Linked DNA regions of Homo sapiens. The protein of the gene in region 1 interacts with the protein of each later gene in a biochemical or structural test. Each region holds a gene or a part of one and is shown on either strand. Other genes may lie near its edges. The genes, in order: KPNA1, SENP2, NOSIP and CSE1L.

Region 1 (7,023 bases):
ATAGTTTCCTCATTTGTACACAAGAAAAGCCAGATACTTTACATCTCTGGGTTGTTGTAGGGATCATCTGCGAGTATGTGAATAGTACTTTGAAAATATAAAGTGGCCGGGTGCGGTGGCTCATGCTTGTAATCCCAGCACTTTGGGAGGCCTAGATGGGAGGATGACTTGAGATCAGGAGTTCAAGGCCAGCCTGACAAACATGATGAAACCTCGTCTCTACTAAAAATATAAAAATTAGCCGGGCGTGGTGGCACATGCCTGTAATCCCAGCTACTTGGGAGGCTGAGGCAGGAGAATCACTTGAATCCGGGAGGTGGAGGTTGCAGTGAGCTGAGAACGTGACATTGCACTCCAGCCTGGGCAACAAGACTGAGACTCTGTCTCAAAAAAGAAAAAAAAGAAAATATAAAGTACGGTACAAATGTCAAGTTTTAATTCAGACGTACTGAAAGGGACTGAGTGTTGCTTTCATTAGTAATTTAATCATAGAGATAAATATGGGAAGAATTTTTATTTCATGATATCTGGGGTTTAATCTGTAAGTCCCCAGAATTTTTGTTATAACAAAAAGGGACCAGATACGGGCTCTTTAACCGAAGTACTCCTACTCTGGGCCTCCCTGCTGCTACTAAACCACCTTACCTCACTCATGTATGTCACTTTTATAGTTTTCTTTGGAACATCCATTGGTTATGTGTCTTCTGCTATGAATTTTCTATCACTAACATGGCTTTGAACGTGATTTGATCAGATGGCCCATTTTCCTGTCTTCCTCTATTCCCAAAGATTAATGAATTTAGTTTTCTACCTGACAGCTACCTTTTAGTTAATCTGGAAGCTTAGAAGAATCACAGGTCATTTGATGACGACTTGTTATTTTCTCTGATTTAAAGGACATGCCATGGAATTTTTCTTTTTTTCTGTGTATGTGCTTTATTAAATAGAAGACAGAATGGTGGAAGAAACAACCTGAAATGTAATTAAGAACTCTTAACTAAATAGAAAAGAGTTCATTATTGGATTTCTCAATATTAAGCTAAAGAGTCAAGTTAGTGTTAGAGATATATTTTAGTAATATGCTCTATTTTTTGTTGGCCATAATTTCCTTTATATCTTCTGTTTACCAGTGCTGTAATGCTATATATCAACCTTTAGTCAGTTTACCTTCATTTTTCCCTCCCTATTAAGAATGCCCAAAAAGTCCTATCTCTGTATTTTGGTTTGGAGCTCTCTCATTTATTGGAAGCTCTTATTCTTTGAAGTTGTCATTTCTTTTCATTATGTGCTGTTAACTCCTTTCACCTACTTATCATTTGATACCTTTTGCCTTTTTCACTGTGCCTGTATTTTATGTTTCACACTAACATTCTCCCCCCATTTTACTTTGCCCATTCTACAGAAGTTTTTAAATCTTTTTTATTAGATAACATACATGGTACAGGCTAAAAGGCACATAAAGCTTTCCAGTGAAAAGTATCTTTTTCATCCTTATTCCCTAGTTACCATCACCTTTCTATGCAGGCAACAAGTATTTAGTTTCCTCTAACTCATTCTGAAGATAATCTGTGCAATAAGTAAATTAATGCATATATTCCTTTTTAACGCTTTTAGAAAATATGGTATAATGCCATATTAATGTACACTGTTTGCATTTTGTTTTCATTTATATCTTGGGAGATCATACCATATCAGCATATGTAACACTCTCTCATTCTTTTTATGGTGTCATGTTTACTCTTTCTTGAACTGAAATTTTAGACACCCTGAATATTCTTCTAGGTTGAGGTATTTCTTCTGGATATTCTTCTTTTAAAATTAATATAGTACTCAACTGATAGGTTATGTGCAAATAATGATCTCAGAATCTTTTTTTCATGTACAGAAAATGTTACTGTTATAAGTAAACAAACTTTTACATTCTAAAAAGATAATGAAAATTATTTTTATCTTTATAGTTTGAATCAGCTTGGGTACTGACAAATATTGCTTCAGGAAATTCTCTTCAGACCCGAATTGTGATTCAGGCAGGAGCTGTGCCCATCTTCATAGAGTTGCTCAGCTCAGAGTTTGAAGATGTCCAGGAACAGGTAAAAATGAAACAAAAAGAAGCAGGTGAAAGAAAGTTTTTGGCTGGGCATGTCGCTCACTCCTGTAATCCCAACATTTTGGGAGGCCAAGGTGGGTGGATCACGAGGAGTTCGAGACCAGCCTAGCCAACATGGTGAAATCCCGTCTCTACTAAAAATACAAAAATTAGCCGGGCATGGTGGTACGTGTCTGTAATCCCAGCTACTTGGGAGGCTGAGGCAGGAGAATTGCTTGAACCCGAGAGGTGGAGGTTACAGTGAGCCGAGATCGCGTCATTGCACTCCAGCCTGGGTGACGAGAGCAAGACTTTGTCTCAAAAAAAACAAAACAAACAAAAAAAGAAAAACAAAAAAAACCACAAAATTTCCCAACATAATAAGGGGCTGAGTTTCACCAGTTGGCTTTGGTAATCTATGGATTGTCACAAAGGAGTGTTCTAGAAATTTAGTCTTAACCAAATAGAAAATTTCTTAGTGACTGTAGGCAGAATTTCTCTTAGACACATAAAATAATCTTCCCCTTCCAAACCTGACATTCTTTAAGCCCTGTATATGTACTTTTTTAGACCATGTAAGCAGTTACTGATAGAGGTTTTTTCTTGTAGAAATTTCAAGTGTTGAAAGTAGGCCAGGTGCTGTGGTTCCTGCCTGTAATTCCAGCACTTGGGAGGCTGAAGTGGGCAGCTTGCTTGAGCCCAGGAGCTCGAGACCAGCCAGGGCAACATGGCGAAACCCAGTCTCTACAGAAAATAAAGTAGGTGGGCATGGTGGCACACGCCTGTTGTCCCAGCTGCTTGAGAGGCTGAGGTGGGAGGGTTCACTTGAGCTCCAGGAGGCTGAGGCTGCAGTGAGCCGATATCACACCACCGCACTCCAGCCTCGGTAACAGAGTGAGACCTATCTCAAAAAAAAAGAAAGTGGCTAGTCTTTGCCACTTTTGTGCAGAAAAGTACAGAAAGCAAGTTTCTTTTTGTTCACTGTTTTCTTATGTAAGCAAGAAAATACTCTCTTTCTGTCTCTTTTTTTCTTTCTGTCTTTCTCTCTTTCTGTCTCTCCATCTTTCCGTCTTTCTTTCTCTCCGTCTCTCCATCTCTCCTTCTCTCCGTCTCTCCTTCCCTCTGTCTCTCCTTCCCTCCGTCTCTCCTTCCCTCCTTCCCTCCGTCTCTCCGTCTCTCCCTCCCTCCCTCCTTCCCTCCTTCTCTTGCTTCCTCCCTCCCTCCCTCCCTCCCTCTCTCCTCCCTCCCTCCTTTCCCTCCCTCCCTTCCTTCCTTCCTTCCTTCCTTCCTTCCTTCCTTCCCTCCTTCCCTCCCTCCCTCCCTCCCTCCTTCCCTCCTTCCCTCCTTCCCTCCTTCCCTCCTTCCCTCCTTCCGTCTGTCCCTGTCACCCAGGCTGGAGTGCATTGGCTCAATCTCGGCTCACTGCAACCTTGGCCTGTCAGGTTCAAGCAGTTCTCATGCCTCAGCCTCTCAAGCAGCTGGGATTACAGGCGCCTGCCACCACACCCGGCTAATTTTGTATTTTTAGTAGAGATGGAGTTTCACTGTGTTGCACTCCATACTGGGTGACAGAGCGAGATTCTGTATCAAAAAACAAAAACAAACAAAAATGAATTAGTTCTTTCCTTTAATAAACCGAATACCTTCTGTTTGTTGTACACTTTAGGATATTATTTATCTTCCTCCCCCAATCCTACAACTGTTTCATTTGACTCCCTGATGAACGTGTTATTGTGATATACTGGCATCTGAAAGAATTATGAGGGAATTAAACTATGTAACCTTTATTAATGAATGATTCTTTCACAGGCAGTCTGGGCTCTTGGCAACATTGCTGGAGATAGTACCATGTGCAGGGACTATGTCTTAGACTGCAATATCCTTCCCCCTCTTTTGCAGTAAGTTTCTTCTTCCTTCTTCCTTTTTTTTTCTTTTTGAGAATAAAAATGTAAGAGATTCCTCAGAAAGCATTACATGTTTGGAAATCATTTTGGATTTTCTAGTGTTATTTTTAATTCCAGATATTTTCTTGTTTAGATCATTTCCTCAAGCACCCTATCTTTTTCCATGCCAAAATTCTGAATTCTGAATTACTTGCATCAGAATTAATGAAGTTTTAATGTTCTGGAGAAAAGCTATCTGAAGACATCTCTTTATCAAAAGTATTATTATTTAGTATTTATGTCATCAGATAATCACTGTCTGTTACATAGTTTACCATTGTACCATCGTGCTTTTAGGTTATTTTCAAAGCAAAACCGCCTGACCATGACCCGGAATGCAGTATGGGCTTTGTCTAATCTCTGTAGAGGGAAAAGTCCACCTCCAGAATTTGCAAAGGTAAGGACTATGCTTTTGGGACATTGGCAGAAAAAATACAATTAAAAGAGTATTGCAACCAATGGTAAGGTGAACAGGAAGATAATTTTTGTTAAAATTTAAAATGTTAGAATTTTATCTGTTTTTGGAGAAACAGGGTTGTTGTTGTTTTTGTTGGTTCTCTTTATTATTTAAAAAGCAAATTTAGAGCATAGCTTGAAGGTGCACATTTACGATGGGACTGCAAATAAAGCATAGCATGAAGGAAGAATTTGTAAAGCTTATTGAAATTAGGCTTCATACAATTAGTATACTGTTTAGGAGACTATCCTTTCAGTTCTCTTAAAACAGTGGTTCTCAAAGTGTGGTCTGTGAGTTCTCTGGGAGTCCATGAGATTCTTTTTTTTTTTCCAATAGGTTTTTGGGGAACAGGTGGTGTTTAGGTACATGAGTTACTTGTTTAGTGGTGATTTCTGAGATTTTGGTGCACCCAACACCCAAGCAGTGTACGCTGTACCCAGTGTGTAGTCCTTTATCTCTCACCCACCTCCGACCCTTTCTCCCTGAGTCCCCAAAGTACATTGTATCATTCTTACGCTTTTGCGTCCTCATAGCTTAGCTCCCACTTATGAATGAGAACATCTGATGTTTGGTTTTCCAGTCCTGAGTGACTTTATCTACTTGTTGATTGATGGGCATTTGGGCTGGTTCCATGTGTTTGCAATTGTGAATTGTGCTGCTATAAACCTGCGTATACAAGTATCTTTTTCTTATAATGACCTCTTTTCCTCTGGGTAGATACCCAGGAATGGGACTGGTGCATCAAATGGTAGATATACTTTTAGTTCTTTAAGGAATCTCCACACTGTTTTCCATAGTGGTTATACTGGTTTACATTCCCAGCAACAGTGTAAAAGTGTTCCCTTTTCACCACATTCATGCCAACATCTATTTTTTGTTTTTTGGTTTTTTGAGACGGAGTTTTGCTCTTGTTGCCCAGGCTGAAGTGCAGTGGCGCGGTCTCGGCACACTGCAACCTCTGCCTCCTAGGTTCAAGTGATTCTCCTGCCTCAGCCTCCCGAGTAGCTGGGATTACAGGCGCATACCACCACACCCGGCTAATTTTTGTATTTTTAGTAGAGACGGGGTTTCACCATGTTGGCCAGGTTGGTCTTGAACTCCAGACCTCAGGTGATCCACCCACCTCAGCCTCCCAAAGTGCTGGGATTACAGGCGTGAGCCACCACGCCCAGCTGCATTTTTTAATATGTTTGTTGGCTATTTGTATATCTTCTTTTGAGAATTGTCTGTTCATGTCCTTAGCCCACTTTTTGATGGGATTTTTTTTTCTTGCTGATTTGAATTTCTTGCAGATTCTGGATATTAAAATAAATGGGTATTTTTGTAGTTGTTTTTAATTTGGAATCATTTTTCACTGAACAAAACCTTAGCATTTTTGGTCTTTAACAAAGTATCTAAAATACAGAATTTCCTAGTTTTCACATTTGTGAAAGTTCCTTTACCTGTTTAGTCCACAAAGAATGTGTTTTGATAGGGAGTCTTACTCCAAGAATTGATGTATATAAAACTTTGCTCTCTGAAATTATTTTCCTTGGGCTTTGACTACAGATTAGTGCAAGATCACTGACAACATTGCCAAAGATGGAAATGCCACTTAGGTACTTGCTGCTTCATCTTTAGAAGTGTAAATCACCCTAGAAGTCACCAAGTACATGCCTGGTTGCCTTCTTGAGTATCTCACCTCACTTCTGGCTTTTAGTCTATTGAATTTCATAATCATCATTTTCCTTTTACAGGTTTCTCCATGTCTGAATGTGCTTTCCTGGTTGCTGTTTGTCAGTGACACTGATGTACTGGCTGATGCCTGCTGGGCCCTCTCATATCTATCAGATGGACCCAATGATAAAATTCAAGCGGTCATCGATGCGGGAGTATGTAGGAGACTTGTGGAACTGCTGATGTAAGATATCTTTTAGAAAGTGTGTCCACTTTCTCTCCCTTGGTACTAGTTTTCTAGCTGCTAATACTTAAATATTAATGGATTGTACATGATAATTGATTTATTGTGCTTTGGGCTACTGTTTTTGTTACTTGTTTATTTTGATGTCAGATCTGTTTGTCTTGTTTTATTGAGGCTTATAGAGAACCTCTTAGTCCTCTGCTGTTAGCAGGCCTTTAGCAGAAACATTGGGAAAACTCTGATATGTGTAGTTCCAGGCTCATACTGGATGGCCTGAGATCAACCACCGGACATCAGAAGGCATACTGCCACTAAAATAGTCATTCCTTATCTGTCTGTCTCATTTAGAGCTTATTTTAGACAAGTATCAGAAATTCAATCTTATTTTGCTTTATCATCTCCGTGATGCTTTTGATAATGGAGTGGAAGATTTACTCGTGACATAAATAATTTGAGACTGTATTAATCAAATTTTTAGATACTACAGAAGAAAAAAATGAAAGTGATAACATAATGGAGAAATGGTACAGTTACAAGGTATGGGAGATTTAAAGTACAAAGTAGATGCAAAGAGACATTGTCGCAAACATGACATTTGGAATATATTAGATAGTTATAATGTATTAATACAAAATAG
Region 2 (7,023 bases), about 63 Mb from region 1:
GTGATAGAGATGGGGCCTCATTATATTGCCCAAGTTGGTTGCAAACTCCTGGGCTCAAGCAATACCTGCCTTGGCCTCCCAAAGTGCTGAGATTATAGGCATGAGCCACTGCACCAGCCCTGAAAATATTTTAACTTATAACTACAAAGCAGCCTTACTTAATTGTTGTAAGTAATACTTACAACAAATCCTGGTTCACTTATTAGCTTGTGGAAACAATAATTTAATAATAATATTTACATCTAAAGTATAGTCTCAATTTTCCTACTACTACGTATTAACCACTATGAGTCAAACATGGTGTTAGATGCTTGAAGCACATCATTGATCCATATTAGTGAGGAAGACATTATTATCATTTTATAGAGAAGAAAATTGAAACCCAGAGAATTTATTTTACATATTCAAAGTCATATAATTATTAAAAGGTAGAAGAAGATTTGAACCCAGGTGCATCTAATTTCCTGGACTTTGCTCCCTTCATAATAGTAAACTCCTGATTTCCACTTTAAACGTTTTTTTTTTTTTTTGGAGACGGAGTCTCGCTCAGTCTCCCAGGCCGGAGTGCAGTGGCGCCATCTCGGCTTACTGCAAGCTCCGCCTCCCGGGGTCACGCCATTCTCCTGCCTCAGCCTCCCGAGTAGCTGGGATGACAGGCGCCCGCCACCACGCCCGGCTAATTTTTTGTATTTTTAGTAGAGACGGGGTTTCACTGTGTTAGCCAGGATGGTCTCGATCTCCTGACCTCGTGATCTGCCCATCTCGGCCTCCCAAAGTGCTGGGATTACAGGTGTGAGCCACCAGCCTGGCCCTTCTTTTTTTTTTTTTTTTGAGACAGATTCTCACTTTGTCACCCAGGCTGGAGTGCATGCAGCTGCATGATCTCAGTTCACTGCAACCTCTGCCTCCCAGGTTCAAGCAATTTTCATGCCTCAGTCTCCTGATTAGCTGGAATTACAGGTGCACACCACCATGCCAGCTATTTTTTTGTATTTTTGGTAGAGACGGGGTTTCACCATGCTGGCCAGGCTGGTCTCGAACTCCTGACTTCATGATCCGCCCATCTTGGCTTCCCAAAGTGCTGGGATTACAGGCGTGAGCCACCACGCCCATTCTCGCCTTTAAACTTTTAAAACATCAAAAAAGGCTGGGTGTGGTGGCTCACGCCTGTAATCCCAGCACTTTGGGAAGCCAAGACGGGCGGATCATGAGGTCAGGAGTTCGAGACCAGCCTGGCCAGCATGGTGAAACCCCATCTCTACTAAAAATACAAAAATTAGCTGGGCGTGGTGGCACGCGCCTGTAGTCCCAGCTACGCAGGAGGCTGAGGCAGAAGAATCACTTGAACCTGGGAGGCAGAGGTTGCAGTAAGCTGAGATTGTGCCACTGCACTCCAGCCTGCCAACAGAGCGAGACTCTATCTCAAAAATAAATAAATAAATAAAACATCAAAATAAGATTAGGACATCTAAGGGGTCACACCATCCTTTTTGACATGAAGAGAATAAGCAAACAGGCAGAAACTTGGAAACCACCCAGCAGTCTAGCAATTGACTCCTTATGGAATAAATGGCTTCATCATACTAAAGAATTATGCAGATAAATGCATTATTTAAGATACAAAACTAAATCTATAAACCCAATAGAAATTATTTTCCTCTAGGCCGGGGGCAGTGGCTTGCGCCTATAATCCCAGCACTTTGGGAGGCCGAGGTGGGTAGATCATCTAAGGTCAGGAGTTCGAGACCAGCCTAGCCAACATGGTGAAACCCGGTCTCTACTAAAAATACAAAAATTAGCTGGGCATGGTGGCAGGTGCCTGTAATCCCAGCTACTAGGGAGGCTGAGCCAGGAGAATCACTTGAACCCAGGATGCAGAGGTTGCAGTGAGCCAAGATCGCGCCATTGCACTCCAGCCTGGGCAACAAGAGCGAAACTCTGTCTCAAAAAAAAGAAATTATTTTCTTCTAAATATATGCTGCTTCCCACTGCACACAGCTTCACCATTTTATGGATCTCTCTCTCCACCTACATGCCCAATATAACAGTAAGTATTCAAGAGATTTGCCTACTAGGGCAACATTGTGGAGGAAGCCAAGATGTGGGCACATCTTTAAAATAAGAATTTTAACTACCTTCATTCTTTATGTTCTGTAAGTTTTTACTATTTTCAAATGCAATAATCAACAAAGGGGGCATTTTAGTAAACTATAATAACTTTCAAAAAAAAAATGCAATGAACTTATTCTTAATGCCAAACCCATACTATATAACTCAACATATTTGAAGGTTAGAATTTACAAAGAATCTGTTGTATTCCAAGATATGAGATGACTGTGTCGACTCCCCATTTGCTGAATATCAATCTGATCCCTTAGGCCACTAATGATCATGCCTCACTAAAGATCAATGTAGTCAAAGTGAATCAACAGACCATGGACCTGACATGTTTTCATATATTCACCCCTAGCCTGGAGAAAGTCCTCAAAACAAAACATTCAAGTTAGAATAACTGAGGTTATTTAAAGACATGCCTCTTTTTAGGATCAATACAAAGAACAATACCTCTGTAAGTTCAAGGAGATCGTCCGTTCTTCTGTCCCTCTCTTTGCCTGAGCAATTCTTTTCCTTTGTCTCAATTATTGACACTTTCCTCCTGAGTAAGCCATTGCTTCCACTGCCCAGGCGGAGTCGGGCCGACACTTCTTCTGATAGGTCAGGCTCCAGTTGGTATCCCCTCCTCTGATCAAAAAATTATCTAAATTCTACTGACATGTTTGATACTTGCAAATATAAACACAGATTACACATGAAATATAAAACTGCCACTAATGTGAAAGAAAAGAGAATTAGCAAATCCCCCAAGTGAGTAGATTTACCCTATCTGTCTGTCCCTGCAAGGGGGAGCAAAAAAAGCTCCAGACCTAGGCCTCACAGGACCCTCAGTTATGAACCATCAAACAGAACACTCACCACCTTCCCTGGAAGTAGCAAGAAAAGTATTTTCAGTTCTCCTATCACAATTAAAATTAGTATGTTTAAAAGATATTATGAAAGTTTTAAACAGCAAAAAATATGACCCACAATCCCATCACTCAGAATAAATCCCTACTATCTTTATAGTAACTCAACTTGGTTCTAGTTTATCCTTGAAAAAAGTCATTTGATATTACAGAAAATGCACAAAACATTAATGTACCACTTAATTTGAATGAACACCTATATAACCACAATTGTAGTAAACAAATAGAATTCTGCCAGCAACCCAGAACATATCATCTCTTTCCAGAGATGTATGATTTTTAAGAAATTCTCCCTAAGAAGCCATAAAATGTAGGTAACATGTTGGTATGGAGGCAGATTGGTCTCTCATAAACAAAGGTGGCTACTGTACAGAGGCAAAACTCCAACAACTCAGAAGGAAGAAAAAAGTTGTGTATTTTCAATGCTTCCTGCCTTTTTTTTTTTTTTTTTTTTTGAGACAGAGTCTCATTCTGTCACCTAGGCTGGAGTGCTATGGTGTGATCACAGCTCACTGCAGCCTTGACCTCCTGGGCTCAAGCAATCCTCCCACCTTAGCTTCCCAAGTAGCTGGGACTACAGACATGCCACCATGCCTGGCTAACTTTTAAATTTTTTTGTGGAGACAGTCTCACTATGTTGCCCAGGCTGGTCTCAAACTCCTGGGCTCAAGTGATCCTTCTGCCTTGGCCTCCTAAAGTTCTGGGATTACAGGCATGAGCCACTGTGACTGGCTGGCTTGCTGCTTTTTTAAAGAAAAACAACAGAATTAACAATCAAAGTTATATATATATACTTTTTCTTGCTTTTCATGGGCACCAAAACATAAGTTACATAAGTAAACAGGTATCAAATGTAACTAGGATTTTTACTTACACTTTCATTTTCAAATCTGATTCCGACCATCGTCTCTGTATCAGTAATTTTCCCCTTTGAACACCTAAGGAAAAAAATTGAGAGATGATAGACTTCTGCTAGATGATTCAAACCTAGTACATCCTAGTTTTAGAAATAAGATTTCGTAATTTGTACATAAAAATTGTGTTGAGTTTACATAATACTCTAAACCAGGAGTCAACGAACTTTTCTGAAAAGGAACAGACAGTATTTTAGGCTTTGCAGGTTTTATGGTCTTGGGCACATCGTGGCAACTCTGCCACTGTAATTTAAAAGCAGCCAGACAGTATGTAAATGAATTCGCATGTTCCAATAGAAATTTACTATACAAAAATAGGCAAGTAGACCAGATTTGGCCCATGGGCCATAGTTTACAAACTCTGCTATAAACCATCATCCCAAAATCCTAAAGCATGCAGAGCTGCCTTTACTGTTCCTATCCTAAAGACACTGACACTAGACATCCCCACTCCAACCAAACTCCCATCTAAGAAGCATGTGTTTCTCCCAACCCCTGACGCCTGGGAGATAAGGGGCACCCCCCTCAACCCACCAGGCTAGGGTGGGCATCTGACACAACAGCTAGCTACCTATCTACCCTATATGCTGACCAACTACCAGAACTCAAGAGAGTTCACAATTCCTCAGAACTGCTTACTCATAAATACAGCTTATAAAGTAAGAAAATATATATTAAAAGAAAGTGTAGAATGAACTGAATGTACGTACCTCTTTTCACTTCTCAATGAACATAGAGGTCCCCTTGTTTCAACAAGTCTATCTGTGAGGATGGTAAAGAAAAGATTAAATGTTTCCTTCATCGATGAATAATATAGTTAGAATTTCAGCTTACAGAGTTTCCACAACATCAAGACATTCCTCTACATTGAAATGCTACAGTGAATTCCAAAGACACTAGCCTCCCTATATACTAAGTTGCCTAAAAAAATGCATACATATCTTTGCTGTTTAAATATAATCTTTACTATAAACTGAGTGATATCTGCTTATCTGGTAAGCTGTCATTTAGTGGACAGTAAGTGGAGAAGTATAAGGAAATTGTTATATAAGGAATATAATAAAATTTCAGCTCACAAAATAGTTGCTACTATCTAGCAGCTTAGGAATAATAATCCAGAGCCATGTTATGAATCTACTTCACCCTGAAACAGCTTTTCTACTAAATTCCTAGATAAGCCCCAGTCAATGCTGTGAGGTTTTTTTTTTTTTTTTGAGACAGAGTCTCACTGTCACCCAGGCTGGAGTGCAGTGGCGTGATCTTGGCTCACTGCAACCTCCACCTCCCAGGTTCAGGCAATTCTACTTCCTCAGCCTCCTGAGTAGCTGGGATTACAGGCAAGTGCCACCATGCCTGGCTAATTTTTGTATTTTTAGTAGAGATGGGGTTTTACCATGTTCGCCAGGCTGGTCTTGAACTCCTGACCTCAGGTGATCCATCTGCCTTGGCCTCCCAAAGTGCTGGGATTGCAGGCGTAAGCCACCGCGCCCGGCCCAATGCTGTGAGATTTGACAGTATTTTGGTACACCATCTACACTTGAATGTCAATTTTCTACCTCATATGAACACTGTAGCATGAACTAAGGTCAATATATTAAGACAAGGCTAAATCTGGGAACTCACATTGTTTTGGAACAAACTGAGTTGTTTTGACTCCGTGATTTTGCTCTTCCCCCCAGCCTTTGGTCTTTAATGTGTCCATCTGACTTCTTTGAGAACTTAGAAACACAAAAAGTGAGGGAGATCAGATACAAAAGCAAAGTCTACCATTAATATGCATTATCTCTGTCCAGCAAGCTTCTCCAAATAGGGGTGATTGATTACACTATTATATCAAATTACAACAGAAAGGAAGCAACTATGTGGGACTAGGATAAAAGGAGTCTAATCATGATTCTAATAATATTTCAGCCAGGTCACCTAACCTCCAGTTTCTCTGTTTGTAAAATCAGAGGTTCTGAATCCCCAGTGATGCACTAACTGAAAAATCTCAGTGTGATAAAACTCAGATTAAAAGATAAAAAACTTTTTAAGCTATGTATTTAAATGGATCCTGAAACAATACATTAAAAGCAAGAACTTTTTGTTTTTTGAGACGGAGTCTCGCACTGTCGCCCAGGCTGGAGTGCAGTGGTGTGATCATGGCCTCACTGAAATCTCTACCTCTCAGGTTCAAGTGGTTCTCCTGCCTCAGCCTCCCAAGTAGCTGGGATTACTGGCACACGCCACTACACCTGGTTAATTTTTGTATTTTTAGTAGACATGGGGTTTCGCCATGTTGGTCAGGCTGGTCTCGAAGTCCTGACCTCCAGTGACCCACCTGCCTCGGCCTCCCAAAGCGCTGGGATTACAGGTGTGAGCCACCACACCCAGCCAGAAGCAGGAACTTTAATTATTTATTTATTTATTTTGAGACGGAGTCTCGATCTGTAGCTCAGGCTGGAGTGCAGTGGCACAATCTCTGCTCACTGCAAGCTCCGCCTCCCGGGTTCACGCCATTCTCCTGCCTCAGCCTCCCGAGTAGGTGGGACTACAGGTGCCAGCCACCATGCCCAGCTAATTTTTTGTATTTTTTAGTAGAGATGGGGTTTCACCGTGTTAGCCAGGATGATCTTGATCTCCTGACCTCGTGATCCGTCCACCTCGGCCTCCCAAAGTGCTGGGATTACAGGTGTGAGCCACTGTGCCCAGCCAAAGCAGCAACTTTAAAAAGCAAAAATAGTTTGAGGGTTTCGCCAACATGACAAAGTTAAGAGTTCGTTAAACATACTGCTGTTTCCAACATATGGCTGGTCAAAATGGAGAAAATACTGACATTCTGACTAAACCAAAAGAATTTTTTTTTAAAGTTCACAACTGATTATTCGCAAACAATCTGTTATTTCTGCATTCAAAAGCTAGATAGTAGGCCGGGTGCGGTGGCTCACGCCTGTAATCCCAGCACTCTGGGAGGCTGAGGCTGGTGGACTACCTGAGATCAGGTGTTCGAGACCGGCCTGGCCAACATGGTGAAGCCCCATCTCTACCAAAAATACAAAAAATTAGCTGGGCGTGGCGGTGGACGCCTGTAATCCCAGCTACTCAGG
Region 3 (7,755 bases), on another chromosome or scaffold:
CAAGGGGGTGGGGCATCGGAGGCCCGGAGGGTGGTCCTCCAGTGGGCAGAAGGCCTTGGGTCCTGGAGCCTGGCTAGGTGTGGTTGCTAGGGAGAAGGCCTCCTTAGCAACCAGGCAGCTGCTGGGATGGGGCTGTGGGGGAGGGGAAATCAGCCAGGTACTGCTTCAGGCTTCTTCGTCTGGTCTGGCCTGGCCAGGCCCCGTTGCTAAGGAGCAGCCCCCCTTAGCAACAAGGCTGGCAACAAGATGGGAACAAGATGGCAACCCCTCAGAGAAGGGGTTCTTGGGGGCAAAATGGGCAGGTGAGGATGGGCAGGCTTCCTCCCTTGGTCGTGTTGCTAGAGGGCTGTGTCCCCAGCAATCAAGCTGCCGGAGGGGCTGGTCTTTCCACTTACTCTGGACACCAGGGAAGGGTTCAGGTGGGCCTGCCCCTCTGAGCCTAAGGCCTGACGGGCCCCACAGCTCTAACCTTTCCCTCCACTGACACTTTTCCCTTCCTAGGGACACAGGACTTGCGTCCAATAAGATGTGGTGGGGGGCCTGGCACCTATAATCTCAGCAGTCTGGGACACTGAAGCAGAAGGATTGCTTGAGGCCAGGCATTCAAGACCAGCCTGGGCCACATAGTGAGACCCCGTCTGTACAAAAACTACAAAAATTACCATGGTAATGTGTGCCTGGAGTCCCAATTACTCAGGAGGCTGAGGTGGGAAGATCGCTTGAGCCCGGGAGGTTGAGGCTGCAGTGAGCCAAGATTGTACCACAGCACTCCAGCCTGGGTGACACAGCGAGACCCTGTCTCAAAAATAAATAATTAAAGGCCTGGCGCGGTGGCTCACGCCTGTAATCCCAGCACTTTGGGAGGCCGAGGCGGGCAGATCACGATGCCAGGAGATCAACACCATCCTGGCTAACACGGTGAAACCCCGTCTCTACTAAAAATACAAAAAATTAGCCGGGTGTGGTGGTGGGTGCCTGTAGTCCCAGCTACTCGGGAGGCTGAGGCAGGAGAATGGCGTGAACCCGGGAGGCGGAGCTTGCAGTGAGCCGAGATCGCACCATTGCACTCCGGCCTGGGCAACAGAGCGAGACTCTGTCTCAAAAAAAAAAAAAAAGCAAAAATAAATATTTAAAAATAAAATAAGGTGTGGGGGGCTCCTCAGGCAAGCTGGGGTCTTAAGGGAGGGAACTCCTTTAGCAGCCAGCTTCAGAGAGCACAGAATTGGGGGGCAGACGATTCTTGTACCTAATTTGGGGTGGAGGACGTTGGTTTGGCCTCGCTGGGAAGGGACTACCTTAGCTGCACAGAACAAGATGGCTTCAGCCCCTCACTCACCTCCTTTGCCATTGTAGATGTAGCTCTCCCAAAAGCGCTCCTTGAGGGGGAAGGAGTGGAAAAGAAGGGGAAAAAGCAGGAATTCAGCTGGGAGGTTCACACCCCCAAACTAGCCCATCCTGATTTCTGAGACACCAAGGAGGAGGGAGCTGAAGGCCAGAACCTACCCCTGCAACCTCCCCACAGGTATAGAGAAGAGAGAGGGCCCGAAACTCCAGGGTCTCGAGGCCCTCACCGTGAGAGTGTTGTCCTCAAAATACTCCCTGGCCTCTTCCCAGGAACACCTCTCTTCCAGACACTCCCGTTCCAGGTTCCCTGGTGTGAGCAGCTCCAGGTCCCAGTGGTTGGCTCTTGGAATCCGGGTATGGCTACTCAGGAAGCTCTGGGCCTCTGGGGGACCCAGGAAGACTTCTGGACCCAAAGACATGAGGGACAGAAAAATGGAGGGTCCCTAGGGCTGGAGTCATAGGGGGATGGAAAGCAGTGGGGTCCTGGAGGAAGGAGCAGGGGCTGGGAATCCAGATTCCTGGGTCTGAAGGAGGAAGGGGCTGGGTCCTGGACTCCTGGAAGAGGAAGGACTAGAAACATTCCTGAGTCAGGGGGAGGCCAACGCCAAGTGTCTGGATGCCACTTCCCCCAAACACTCACCTTGGTCTGTCTCCTCACTGGGTGAAGTATCCAGGCAGGTGGTTAATGCCATATATAGCAGCAGCAGAGAGGGGTGGCCCCTCATATTTTCCAGACACCTAGAACCAGGTTTGTTACAGCTGACAAGGGCCTTAGTCCCTGGGTAATGAGGCAGTGCCTCTCTGACTGGCCTCTGTGGTCCACGAATGGCAATAATAGCAGCCACTTACACAGCCTGTATTCTGTGCCAGATACTGTTTACCTATATAAACTCATTTTACTTTTTTTTTTTTTTGACATGGAGTCTCGCTCTGTCAGCCAGGCTGGAGTGCAGTGGCACAGTCTCAGCTCACTGCAACCTCTGTGTCCTGGGTTCAAGCGATTCTCGTGCCTCAGCCTACCAAGTAGCTGGGATTACAGGCATGCGCCACCACACCCGCTAATTTTCTTTTTTTTTTGAGACAGAGTCTCGCTCTGTCACCCAGGCTAGAGTGCATTGGTGTGATCTCCGCTCACTGCACACTCCACCCCCCAGGTTCATGCCATTCTCCTGCCTCAGCCTCCCGAGTAGCTGGGACTACAGGTGCCGGCCACCATGCCCGGCTAATTTTTTTGTATTTTTAGTAGAGATGGGGTTTCACTGTGTTAGTCAGGATGGTCTCGATCTCCTGACCTCGTGATCTGCCCGCCTCAGCCTCCCAAAGTGAATTTTCATATTTTTAGTAGAGATGGGGTTTCACCATGTTGGCCAGGCTGGTCTTGAATTCCTGACCTCAAGTGATCTGCCTGCCTCAGCCTCCCAAAGTGCTGGTGCTGGGATTACAGGCGTGAGCCACTGTGCCCGGCCTCAACTCATTTTACTTTTCACAGGAGTCATACAAAAATTAGCCAGGCGTGGTTGTGGGCGCCTGTAATCCCAACTACTTGGGAGGCTGAGCCAGAATAATCACTTGAAAGGGGAGACAGAGGTTGCAGTGAGCCGAGACTGTGCCACTGCACTCCAGCCTGGGTGACAGAGCGAGATTCCATGTCAAAAACAAAACAAAACAAAACTTTTCACAGGAGTTTTTTTTTTTTTTTTTTTTTAGACAGAGTCTCGCTCTGTCACCCAGGCTGGAGTGCAGTGGCGCTATCTCAGCTCACTGTGACCTCTGCCTCCTGGGTTCAAGCGATTCTCCTGACTCAGCCTCCCGGGTAGTTGAGATTACAGGTGCGCACCACCACGCCTGGCTAATTTTTTGTATTTTTAGTAGAGATGGGGTTTCACCATGTTGGCCAGGCTGGTCTCAAACTCCTGACCTCAAGTGATCCACCCGCCTCGGCCTCCCAAAGTGCTGGGATTACAGGTGTGAGCCACTGCGCCCGACCAGGAGTCCTATTATTATCCCCAGTATAGAGAACAGGAAACTGAGGCACAGAGAGGTAATATAGCTTGCCGAAGGTCACACAGTGTGCAAGTGTGAGAGCCAGGATTTCAGTGAAGGCAGTGTCCGCCAGAGAAGAAAGCAAGGAGCAGGCAGCTTATCTTTCTTTCCCCACTGTGTCTACAGCACCTGACACAGATGCTTATAAACATGTCCACTGGTGATCTGGAGTCTTCCCTTCCTGGTAATTTCCACTTGTGCCTCTTTCTGTGCTCATTGTCACATCCACCCACAGACAACAAAGATTACGAGAGAGGCAGAGGCAGGGGATTAGTTATATTATTGGGTCTAGGGACCTAAGTGGGCAGGGGCCCTGGACTCCTGGGCCTAGGAGCCCCAAACTTCTGGGTCTCGGAGGGGCGGGGAGCCAGGATGCCTGGGTCCCCAAGCCAGGCTCTTCCTCCAGGGACATTCACTTACCTGCCCAGAAATGTGAGCACTGCCCCTTCCTCTTTAATCGAGAACTCCTTGGCCAGCTACAGCCAGCTGTGAAAGGGGACAGGGAAGAGGGGAGGGGATAAGGAGGAGGGGCGCCCCACTCCCGGTAACCAGGCCTGATCCCCGTTTCTGGCAGGTGGGCGGAACTTGCCATTACCTGCCCTGGGCGGGACTCAGGTAAGGGACAAAGTATTTAAAGGGACCTTGGGATAAAGGACTTAAAGGCCAGAGCTCCATGAGGAAGCCAAGGTGTCGAATACCATGGGATACCTGGGGGATTAGATTCGACCCTCCTCCTCCCTCCCGACCCCTACCCGCTCTGGCTCTCCCCTGGGAGTTCGTCTGTCCGAGCTAGAAAAATTAATATCTAGGTCTCTAGGTATCTAGAAACTAGCGGGAACGATATGCCTTAGTCCCTGGGACAGCTGGGCAGTGCCGCAGTAAATCCCTGTTTCCTGAGAGCGACTTGAACGGCTTTGATTTTCAATTTCCCAATGGCTCTGTCTGTAAAATGGGAGCGTAGTTGTCTCTTCTCAATTGTTTTAAGATGCAGCAAGAAAAGTGGATGATATATTTGGGAAAGTGGGCTTCCCGATCTCTAGGGGAAGTGATTAGTCCTTAAATTTGGGCTTGGAGAGACTCAAAACCTGGGAACCAAGCAGGAAAAAACGATCTCCCTGGGAAATGCCTCGTACATAGTAAGCGTTCCCCATATTCCCACCAGTTTCAATATCCGGAACTTTCGATTAGCTACTCACGTTTCCGGAGAGAGAAAGAGAAGAGAGGACTTGAGCAAGCCAGGCGAGGCACTTCCGCAACTAGGGGCAGCTCTACTTCCGGTGCCTTCTGCTGGGCGGAAGTGGGCGGAGCGGAGGGGGAAAATAGTGCTCCTTTCCGGTGTCGGGGCACAGTTGAAGAAGCGACCGAGGGACTGGGAGTCGTTAGTGAGGTGAGTTCGAGGCGGTGCAGGAAGAGTGTTGCTGGGATCGCTTTCCTGCGGGCTAGAGGCCTGGGGTCTTGAGGGAGACTGGGGCAAGATTTTGGATTCCCGATTCCCTGTCAATCATTATTAATACAGCTGTCCGGGCGCCCCAAGTTTGAAGCTGAACTACACTCTGCTGGAGGTGGCCAACCGTCCATCGGGCAGTTCTCTCTCTCTTTGTCTCTCTCTCTCACTATAAACTCAGTCAAGTGGTAGCTAGCATCGGCCAGTTCTCCTGAGAGTTACAGTTCTGCTGTAGATGATGGCTATTTGCTGGTGGTCCCAAGGGAAGGAGTGGACTGGGATTGCTGGGGGTCTAAGGAGTGGGAGTTGAGGAGGGAGAACTCCTTTCCTGGCCTCAGTTTCTCAGACTGTGGTGGGACGGCGGGCGATACTAGATTGTGCAGTCATCCATCGCCACCTTCTCTTCACCTTTTTGACAGCCCCTTCCCTTTCGGGGTTGGTGCAGGGATTCACGTTTTCTTGTGTGGAGCTTCGGGGTCAGGCAGTCATGGATTCCCATTCTGATTGTGCTGCTAATTCTGTGAACTTGGGGCTTGAACGGTCCTTGAGGCAGTTTGATGTTAATGTTTTCTTACGAAAATGTTCAAACTTATATAAAAGTGAGAGAAGAATACAGGAATTCCTGTCACCCAAATCACCAATGATTATTTTTGCCATACTTGCTGTATTTTTTTAAACTTAAAGAGATTAAAACAAATCGTAGGCATCATGACACTTAAGGATTGTCAAAAGACAAAATTGCAACACATTTAGTGAGAAGATCTTAATTGGCATTTATTCGTGAATCTACAATCAAACAACATCTAATTATGGAAAATAGCGTGAGTGTTCCGATGAGCTGAGCAGAGGTTGTTTTCAGAGACAAAGGGCTGAGAAAATCAGAAACGGAAAACAAAAAGCTAGTTGATTAAATTGATTAACTTGATTAAATTTCTAAGTTAAAGGTTAAAGTAGAGGGGACTTCCTTTATCAGGTGGGCTAAAACTGGGTTGTTTGGGGATTTGGCTATTATCTCTCTCCTGATATCTCAGAAGATCAGATATCAACTTAGTTTTGGCTTGGAAGCATGGAACTTTAGCATGAGTGTCTCCATTTTGGTTTGGTCTGTTGAACCTAGTGCAGGAGCTCAATCCAAACCAATGACCTTCTATAAATTTTATCTAACAGGGTGCGTGTGTAAAAACCAGAAACATTGCTGATATGACCACAATACCATCATCACACTTTAAAAGAACAACCGTAATTCTAGACTACTATCCATTACGTGGTGCAGAGTCAAGTCCAGTGTAACTGTGGGTTTGTTGGAATCAGGATATAGTTAAGTAATTGCTATCGTCTTTTACATCTCTCTTAATTTAGAACTGTTCCCCCTTCCACTCCACTTTGGTTATTTCTTGGTGTAATCGATTCATTGAAGAAACTAATTCTAGTTCAGTTGATCATCCCACCATCTGAATTTGTCCCGTTTGCTTTTTTGTGGTCTCATTTTACCTGCTTCTGTTTTCTTTCTTTTTTTTTTTAAGTATTTAAAAATAGGCCAGACACAGTGGCTCATGCCTGTAATCCCAGCACTTTGGGAGGCCAAGGCGGGCGGATCATGAGATCAGGAGATCAAGACCATCCTGGCTAACACGGTGAAACCCCTTAGCCGGGCATGATGGCAGGCACCTGTAGTCCCAGCTACTCAGGAGGCTGAGGCAGGAGAATTGCGTGAACCCGGGAGGCAGAGCTTGCAGTGAGCCGAGATCACGCCACTGCACTCTAGCCTGGGCGACAGAGTGAGACTCTGTCTCAAAAAAAAAAAAGAAAAAATAGATAGAGACAAGGTGTCACTATGTTGCCCAGGCTGGTCTCAAACTCCTGGGCTTAAGCGATCCTCCTGCCTTGGCCTCCCAAAGTGCTGTGCTTAGATTACAGGTGTGAGCCATTGAGCCCGGCCTCATTTTACTTGTTTCCTCATGCCAGGGATCAGCTAATTATGTTCTACAGACCAAACTCAAATCCTGCCAGCTACCTGTTTTAAAAATCCCCATTGGGCAGGCACAGTGGCTCATGCCTGTAATCCTTGCACTTTGGGAGGTGAAGGCAGGTGGATCATCTGAGGTCAGGAGTTCGAAACCAGCCTGGCCAACATGGTAAAACCTCATCTCTACTAAAAATACAAAAATTGGCTGGTCATGGTGGCTGGCACCTATAATCCCAGCTACTCAGGAGGCTGAGGCAGGAGAATTGCTTGAACCCTAGGGACAGAGGTTGCAGTGAGCTGAGATCATGCCACTTCACTCCAGCCTGGGCAAAAGAGCATAACTCCCTCTCAAAAAAAAAAAGCATTAGTGGGATATGATTTACCTAACATATAGTTCACCCATTGAAAATATACAATTCAGTGGTGTTTAGTACGTTGACAGAGTTGTGCAACCATCAACACTATCATTTTAAGAATATTTTCATCACCCAAAAAGAAACCCTGGTACTCATTAGCAGTCATTCCCTATTTCCTCCCAATCCTTCCCACCCCAGTCTTTGGCAGCCACTACTCTGCTATATCTGTGGATTTGCCTAATCTGGGTATTTTGCACAAATGAAACCATAAAATATTATTGTGACTGCCTTCCTTCTTTCATTTAGCATGTTTTCAAGGTTCACCTATGTTGTGGCATGTATCAATACTTCTTTTTTTTTTTTTTTTTCCCGAGACACGGCCTTGCTCTGTTACCCAGGCTGGAGTGCAGTGGTTCGATCATGGCTCACTGCAGCCTCAACCTCCTGGGTTCAAGTGATCCTCCTGCCTTGGCCTCCCAAAGTACTGGGATTACAGGTGTGAGCCATCGGCGCCCAGCCAGCTACTTTATTCTTTTTATGGCTGGATAATATTCCTTTACCCAAGATATACTTCTTTTCTTTTTTTTTCTTTTTTTGAGACA
Region 4 (7,023 bases), on another chromosome or scaffold:
TCTGTTTCATTCTAAAAGCATTTGAGGCTGCTTACTAAAATAGGTGCATTATGACAATACAATTTAATAAACTGGAGCCAAGGAAAGTAACTGAGATAAAGTTAATAAACAGAAATGTGTGTCAAAGGATCCTATATAGTAGTCCAAGAAACTCCAAATTTTATTTGGAGTCTCTTAGCAGCCAGGGCAAAGAGGGAAACTTGGGAAGTTAAAATTTTCACAGGGTCTATGAGATAAAAGTTAAAGCAGAGAATACTGTACAATAGTAGTAGTAGTGTTCTCAGCAACAATCATGTAACAGTTATTTTCATGTGGCTATTTGCGTAAGGTCACTTATTTCTGAGATATGACCTAACCGAATGAAAGTAATTCACTGGGGACCAAGAAAATAGGTCTTCTGGCCTGAACCAGGATGAAATGTAGAGGAATGGATGGTCTGCATGTCTTTCAGGCCACTATTCAACAGTATTATTTCTTGAAATGAGCTTTGGGTAAGAGATGGAAAACAGTTCTAGGTTCTTTCCTTCATCAAGAACTTGAAGTACAGATACTCTCAGTGGCCAATTAAGGGTAGAAAGGACATCCTTTGAGGTGAGTCAAGCCAGTACCTATCTTCAGGCCCAGAATTTATGCAGAAAACAGTTCTGAATCTTGGCTCCACCTCCAAAAACAAAATAAATGACAGAGTCCCCTGAGATTCTGAGTTCTTTCTCAGTGGTAATAGATATAAACCAGGGACAACTGTTTCAACTTCAGATGTTGTTGGGTTTAGCTGGCTTTTTGGTTCAGTTGTGTTTGGTTCTCGATGTGCCTTCTTAGGAGCCTAACATGAGCACATGTAAAAAAATTATTTTCCTAAACTGTCTATCAATTGTCAGTGGTGGGAGATGGCTCAGTTTTATGCTGAGAAGGGTGACATAGTGGTTGCCAAGGGTAATCTGCAGTGACAAGCTCAAGAGTTGGTAGTGACTGAAAGCTGTTTTTTCATCTATAGCTTTACAGCTGCAGAAATCGCACCGTTTGTTGAGATTCTGCTAACAAACCTTTTCAAAGCTCTCACACTTCCTGGCTCTTCAGAAAATGAATATATTATGAAAGGTAGGCTGTTTCCCTGGTGTGCAGACTACAGGTATCCAATCTCAGATTGTAAGGGTGAGCACTCTGAGTTATACTTCAGGTTATACAGTCTATGAACCAGATAATGTTTACCAAGTAGTAAGTTAGTTTAGATATTTCAAAATGAAAAACATTATCTTGTTTACTACTAACAATAATTTTTTTTTTTTTTTTTTTTTTTTTTTGAGATGGAGCCTTGCTCTGTTGCCCAGGCTGAAGTGCAGTGGCTTGATCTCAGCTCACTGCCACCTCTCCCTCCTGGGTTCAAGCGATTCTCCTGCCTCAGCCTCCCGAGTAACTGGGATTACAGGTGCACTCCACCATGCCCGGTTAATTTTTGTATTTTTAGTAGAGACAGGGTTTTGCCATATTGGCCAGGCTGGTCTCAAACTCCTGACCTCAAATATCTGCCCGCCTCAGCCTCCCAAAGTGCTGGGATTAGAGGCCACTGCACCTGGCCAACAGTAATCTTAATTTGATATGGAACTTCTCATTACAGAAAATGTAGCAAAGCCCTTTTTTCCTTCCCTAGATTGAGTTTCTTTAAGGCAAAGAAGAGATCATGCAACGTTTATTAACTGCATGCTCACCTAGGTAGGGGTGAAATGTGGGTGCCTGTGGTAGACTCTGCACAAATCGTGTCTTCTTACGTACTGCCAAGGACACAGGCAGCTGTATCCATCCACAGGCTGGTGTATCCATCCACCAGGCACTACATTAGTTGAGTGTCCTGGTGCCAGCTCTGAATTTAGAGATAGTCTCAGTGTTTTTCACTGTTGCATCCCAAAAGCCTAGCACATTGGGTTGTAGGAAGCACTTTTCAGAGAAACTCCCTGATCTTTTCAGTCTGGATCAGAAATCCTAGAGTGGATGTGTGTATCTGGGTGTATGTTTCCAACACTATCCTTCCCCCAACAATGATGTATAATTGTGTAATTATTGTTGTTTAATGTCCTTTTTTTTTTTTTTTTTTTTTTTGAGATGGAGTTTCACTCTTGTTGCCCAGGCTGGAGTGCAATGGCACAATCTCAGCTCACTGCAGCCTCACTCTCCTGGGTTCAAGCGATTCGCCTGCCTCAGCCTCCCGAGTAGCTAGGATTACAGGCGTGTGCTACCATGCCCAGCTAATTTTGTATTTTTAGTAGAGACAGGGTTTCTGCATGTTGGTCAGGCTGGTCTTGAACTCCCGACCTCAGGTGATCCACCCGCCTCAGCCTCCCAAAGTGCTGGGATTACAGGTGTGAGCCACTGCGCCCAGCCTTAATGTCCATTTCTATGAGAGCGGCTAACTAGTCTGTAATCTTCATTACTGTGTTTTTAGGGTATGTAAGAATACACAGTATGTAATACCTTCTCTGTACGGTTGTATGAGTGAATGAAATAATTCTGCGCCAGCCTAGTGGAGGAGCACCAATTTATCCTCTAGCCCTTTTAACCCAGGTCAGGGAAGGATTTTCTCTAGGAAGTGATCTCTAAGCTGAGATATGACCTAACCGAACGTTAGGTGTGAGGGATAGGTAGCAATCTGTTGAAGGGTGGATGAGTCTTTGACTCCAGTAGAGGAGGAAACATGATGTGCAGAGTTCAGGAGGCAAGAGCAGATAGCTTTCTGTCCTTTATGCTTGGCATGTATTTGGGGCTCTGCTTAGTAAACATTTATTTTAGAAATGTTATTTGTGGAAAGAGAGCTTTTATACATTTTTAGCTGACAAATTTATTTTTCTCCCATGCTTCCTATTTTTAACCCATTTATGGTCTTTTGAGCAATATTTTTGCAATTTGGACTCTGTGGCTTTACATGTATTTTTAGAATTTTTTTAGGCTCCTAATCTCTTTTTTTGAGGGAGGTGGATAGGCAGTTTTCTCTTCAGTTTCCTGTAGTTTGTGATCATGTTTCCTTTAGGCTAGGGCTAAACATTTTCTGATGCTGGTTTCTTTTTCTTTTTCTTTTTTTTTTTTTTTTTTGAGAGAGAGAGGGAGTCTCGCTCTGTCTCCCAGGCTGGAGTGCAGTGGCATGATCTTGGCTCACTGCAACCTCCACTTCCCAGGTTCAAGCGATTCTCAAGCCTCAGCCTCCCGAGTAGCTGGGACTACAGACGTGCACCACATACCTGGCTAATTTTGCTATTTTTAATGGAGATGGGTTTTGCCATGTTAGCCAGGTTGGTCTCAGACTCTAGCCTCAAGTGATCCGCCAGCCTCGGCCTCCCAAAGTGCTGGGGTTACAGGTGTGAGCCACCAAGCATGGCCTCTGCTACTGATTTCTAAGAGAAAGAGACCCCAAACAGTTCTCTCTCAGACTCACCTGCTCCATTCATGTCAGCTCACTGTTTCTTCCTCTTAGTCAACCTCTTTAATTATTTTTTAAACCTTGAGCCTTCTAGAAATACTCAGTATTTCCCAGCTAAATTTTGTTGCCAACCCGTCCTAATTTTAAAAGGAAGGGAAATTTAGATTATTTTTAAATGTAGAGAGCTATCTCGGGGTTGTCTAAGCATCTTAAAATTTAGTTGATGAATTAGTGCGCTTTTTTCCCCCCAGTCGCTCTCTTATTCTGAAGTTTAACTAAACTCTATTTGTTTTTGCTGTTTTTGTATTTTACAGCTATCATGAGAAGTTTTTCTCTCCTACAAGAAGCCATAATCCCCTACATCCCTACTCTCATCACTCAGCTTACACAGAAGCTATTAGCTGTTAGTAAGGTAATAGAGCCAATTTTGAAAGTGGGGTTCCTTTTTTATTTGCTCCAAACTGTTTGGGCCTCAGAACTCTTTGGCATTACGTGAAGCTTTAGAGAAGGTCTGTGAATTCTTCCTGACCAGCCACTAATGGACTTTTCTGAAAGTGTGGGCATGCTGTTAGATTGGAGACGTAATAGCAGTCACCTTTAAGTGTGTGCTAGAAGCTTGAATACATTTTCATTCTCATTACAAAAGTAACATGTTTATTGTAGAAAAAGAAAGTGCAGATGATCCAAAATTACCTTAAATGGAGTTAAGTAGGCTTTGCACTAAATGGATATAAAAGAGGCTGTCTGGACTTCTATGAAATGATGATTAAAATCCTTTGTGTTGTCTTTTCTTCCTTACTCTTATTTCTCAAAAGGAAAGTTCACTCTGATCAAAATTTTACAGATACTTAGATTCATGTTTATTAACACTAAATTTTAGAAAATAAATCCGTTTAAGGCTGACAGAATTCCTTTTTAGATGCTATTCTTGATCTTATGAGAATTAGATCAATTCATAGGAAGTGTTGGAGGGATTTTGGAGAACAGAGTGATTATTATTCAACTGAGTTAGGGCTAAGGGTCTTTGGACTACTTAGGGCCTTGAGGGATGGAGCGGGGAGGGAACCCAAGTCTCCGCCTCCCATATGTATTACCATCTCATGTTCTGATTGAGTTAGATTTGTATGCTAGTAGCCTTCCAAGAACTTGTTTAAAGAAAAATGGGGTTTTGTTGCTTAAAAAGAACATAAAAAACTACTCATTTGGGGGATTATCAGTAAGTAGACATAGACATTGAGGCCCACAGAAGTTAAGGCTAGTGGCATTACTAGGACTTAGTATTTCTTCTCTGCGAGGGCACGTGGGCTTAAGACAAGTTACAGCTCTGGGATCTGAGGTTTGTATAAGCAACTCTGTAACTCTGAAGTATTTTTTTCATGGTGGACTTTGGGCCATTTAAAAAAAAATTCAAATGAACAAGCACTAGGGTATAATTGGTGTTTTTTTCTTAATTTTGATTTTTAAAAAATAAGATGGCCTCTATTTTAAATGTGTTTTATAAAGGTTAGGTGTGGATTATTAGCATAATTAGGTTTTTTTTTTTTAATTTCAGAACCCAAGCAAACCTCACTTTAATCACTACATGTTTGAAGCAATATGTTTATCCATAAGAATAACTTGCAAAGCTAACCCTGCTGCTGTTGTAAATTTTGAGGAGGCTTTGTTTTTGGTGTTTACTGAAATCTTACAAAATGATGTGCAAGGTAAGTTAACGGAAATTATTTTCTTTGTAATGGAATAAAATTAACATGGCTATAAAATGCAGCCCACCTAAGCGATGTGGGCCTTTTGTGTCAGTCATTCCTTCTGAAGCTCACAGCTCTGTTTTTACTTTTATCAACAGAATTTATTCCATACGTCTTTCAAGTGATGTCTTTGCTTCTGGAAACACACAAAAATGACATCCCGTCTTCCTATATGGCCTTATTTCCTCATCTCCTTCAGCCAGTGCTTTGGGAAAGAACAGGAAATATTCCTGCTCTAGTGAGGCTTCTTCAAGCATTCTTAGAACGCGGTTCAAACACAATAGCAAGTGCTGCAGCTGACAAAATTGTGCGTCAGGTTTTGATATAACTGTAATTTTATAAAGTAGCTTGGAGAAACTGGGGATGGCAGATGTTTGAAATTTTTTTATTTAAAATAAATTTAAGGCTGGGGGCAGTGGCTCAAGCCCACCACTTTGGGAGCCTCTAGTGGGAGGATCCCTTGAGCCGAGGAGTTTAAGACCAGCCTAGGCAACGTGGTGAGATCTATCTCTACAAAGGAAAAAAAAGCTTTTTAATTAGTTGGACACAGTGGAGCATGCCTGTGGTCCCATCTACTTGGGAGGCTAAGGTGAGAGGGTCGCTTGAGCCCAGGAGTTTAAGGCTGCAGTGAGCCATGATCTCACCATTGCACTCCATCCTGGGCAACAGAGCTAGACCCTGTCTCTTAAAAAAAATAATAATAATAATAACGGAAATAATTAGTAGAAAATGTTATGGTATGTTTTATCAGAATTCTGTATCCTTTAGTTATTTATATCCATGATGGAAAATTTTAAAAACAGAGCCAAACAGGTTGATTTTAAGAACTTAACTTTGGTCGGGCGTGGTGGCTCACACCTGTAATCTCAGCACTTTGGGAGGCCGAGGTGGGCAGATCACCTGAGGTCAGGAGTTCAAGACCAGCCTGGCCAACATGGCGAAACCCCGTCTCTACTAAAAATAAAAATTAGGTGGGTGTGGTGGCACGTGCCTGTAATCCCAGCTACTCAGAAGGCTGAGGCAGGAGAATCGCTTGAACCTGGGAAGCAGAGGTTGCAGTGAGCCAAGATCGCCCCATTGCACTCTAGCCTGGGCAACAAGAGTGAAACTCCGTCTCAAAGAAAAAAAAAATTACTTTAATGGCTACGCGGGAGGAATTGTTCCCCATATGTTTCAGAAATAATTAAAGAGAAAAGGATAGATTATTACAGTATGAACTCTGTTTTAAGACATATATCATGTTTAACTTTTCGAATAATTATTCCTGTTAACCATTTTCTGTTGGATCTCATTTCTTAACAGCCTGGGTTACTAGGTGTCTTTCAGAAGCTGATTGCATCCAAAGCAAATGACCACCAAGGTTTTTATCTTCTAAACAGTATAATAGAGCACATGCCTCCGTGAGTATGACTAGAACTTTGTGCATTTATTTAGAAATTTTGTTAGGTGCTCAGAAAAGTCCTAAATTTATATTGTTGATTTTTTTTAATTCTTTAGTGAATCAGTTGACCAATATAGGAAACAAATCTTCATTCTGCTATTCCAGAGACTTCAGAATTCCAAAACAACCAAGTTTATCAAGAGTAAGTAAAATCATCTGGATGTTCTACAGAAGTAATGAAAGAAGGTAGCTAAAACCCTTAGACTTTATGGTTGCAGATACATTTTTTATCCGTTTTAAACTTTATGCAAAAAATACTTGGCCACGTGTGGAGGTTCATGCCTGTAATCGCAGCACTTTGGGTGGCCAAGGGAGGCCGATCGCTTGAGCTCAGGAGTTCAAGACCAGCCTGGGCAACATGGCGAAACCCTGTCCCTACGAAAAGTACAACAAAATTAGCCAGGCATGGTGGCATGTGCCTGTAGTCGCAG

What was found.
Region 2: the proteins of KPNA1 (region 1) and SENP2 form a complex in vitro, tested with the Homo sapiens proteins (one study listed by BioGRID).
Region 3: the proteins of KPNA1 (region 1) and NOSIP form a complex in vitro, tested with the Homo sapiens proteins (2 studies listed by BioGRID).
Region 4: the proteins of KPNA1 (region 1) and CSE1L form a complex in vitro, tested with the Homo sapiens proteins (one study listed by BioGRID).

What each region holds. Positions count from the first base shown.
Region 1 is NC_000003.12:122,448,937-122,455,959, reverse strand, and holds part of KPNA1 (importin subunit alpha-5), read left to right. Parts: intron 1-1,958; coding exon 1,959-2,090; intron 2,091-3,895; coding exon 3,896-3,984; intron 3,985-4,326; coding exon 4,327-4,426; intron 4,427-6,222; coding exon 6,223-6,386; intron 6,387-7,023. UniProt on the Homo sapiens protein: Functions in nuclear protein import as an adapter protein for nuclear receptor KPNB1. Binds specifically and directly to substrates containing either a simple or bipartite NLS motif.
Region 2 is NC_000003.12:185,610,283-185,617,305, reverse strand, and holds part of SENP2 (sentrin-specific protease 2), read right to left. Parts: intron 5,656-7,023; coding exon 5,561-5,655; intron 4,700-5,560; coding exon 4,648-4,699; intron 3,962-4,647; coding exon 3,898-3,961; intron 2,743-3,897; coding exon 2,566-2,742; intron 1-2,565. UniProt on the Homo sapiens protein: Protease that catalyzes two essential functions in the SUMO pathway.
Region 3 is NC_000019.10:49,577,534-49,585,288, reverse strand, and holds the start of NOSIP (nitric oxide synthase-interacting protein), read left to right. Parts: upstream 1-4,732; 5' UTR 4,733-4,774; exon of another isoform or gene 4,775-6,148; intron 6,149-7,755. Other genes in the region: PRRG2 (transmembrane gamma-carboxyglutamic acid protein 2 isoform 1 precursor), read right to left, coding at 1,337-1,376, 1,572-1,747, 1,985-2,069. UniProt on the Homo sapiens protein: E3 ubiquitin-protein ligase that is essential for proper development of the forebrain, the eye, and the face. Catalyzes monoubiquitination of serine/threonine-protein phosphatase 2A (PP2A) catalytic subunit PPP2CA/PPP2CB.
Region 4 is NC_000020.11:49,084,289-49,091,311, forward strand, and holds part of CSE1L (exportin-2), read left to right. Parts: intron 1-994; coding exon 995-1,098; intron 1,099-3,720; coding exon 3,721-3,818; intron 3,819-4,958; coding exon 4,959-5,109; intron 5,110-5,249; coding exon 5,250-5,458; intron 5,459-6,453; coding exon 6,454-6,551; intron 6,552-6,648; coding exon 6,649-6,734; intron 6,735-7,023. UniProt on the Homo sapiens protein: Export receptor for importin-alpha. Mediates importin-alpha re-export from the nucleus to the cytoplasm after import substrates (cargos) have been released into the nucleoplasm.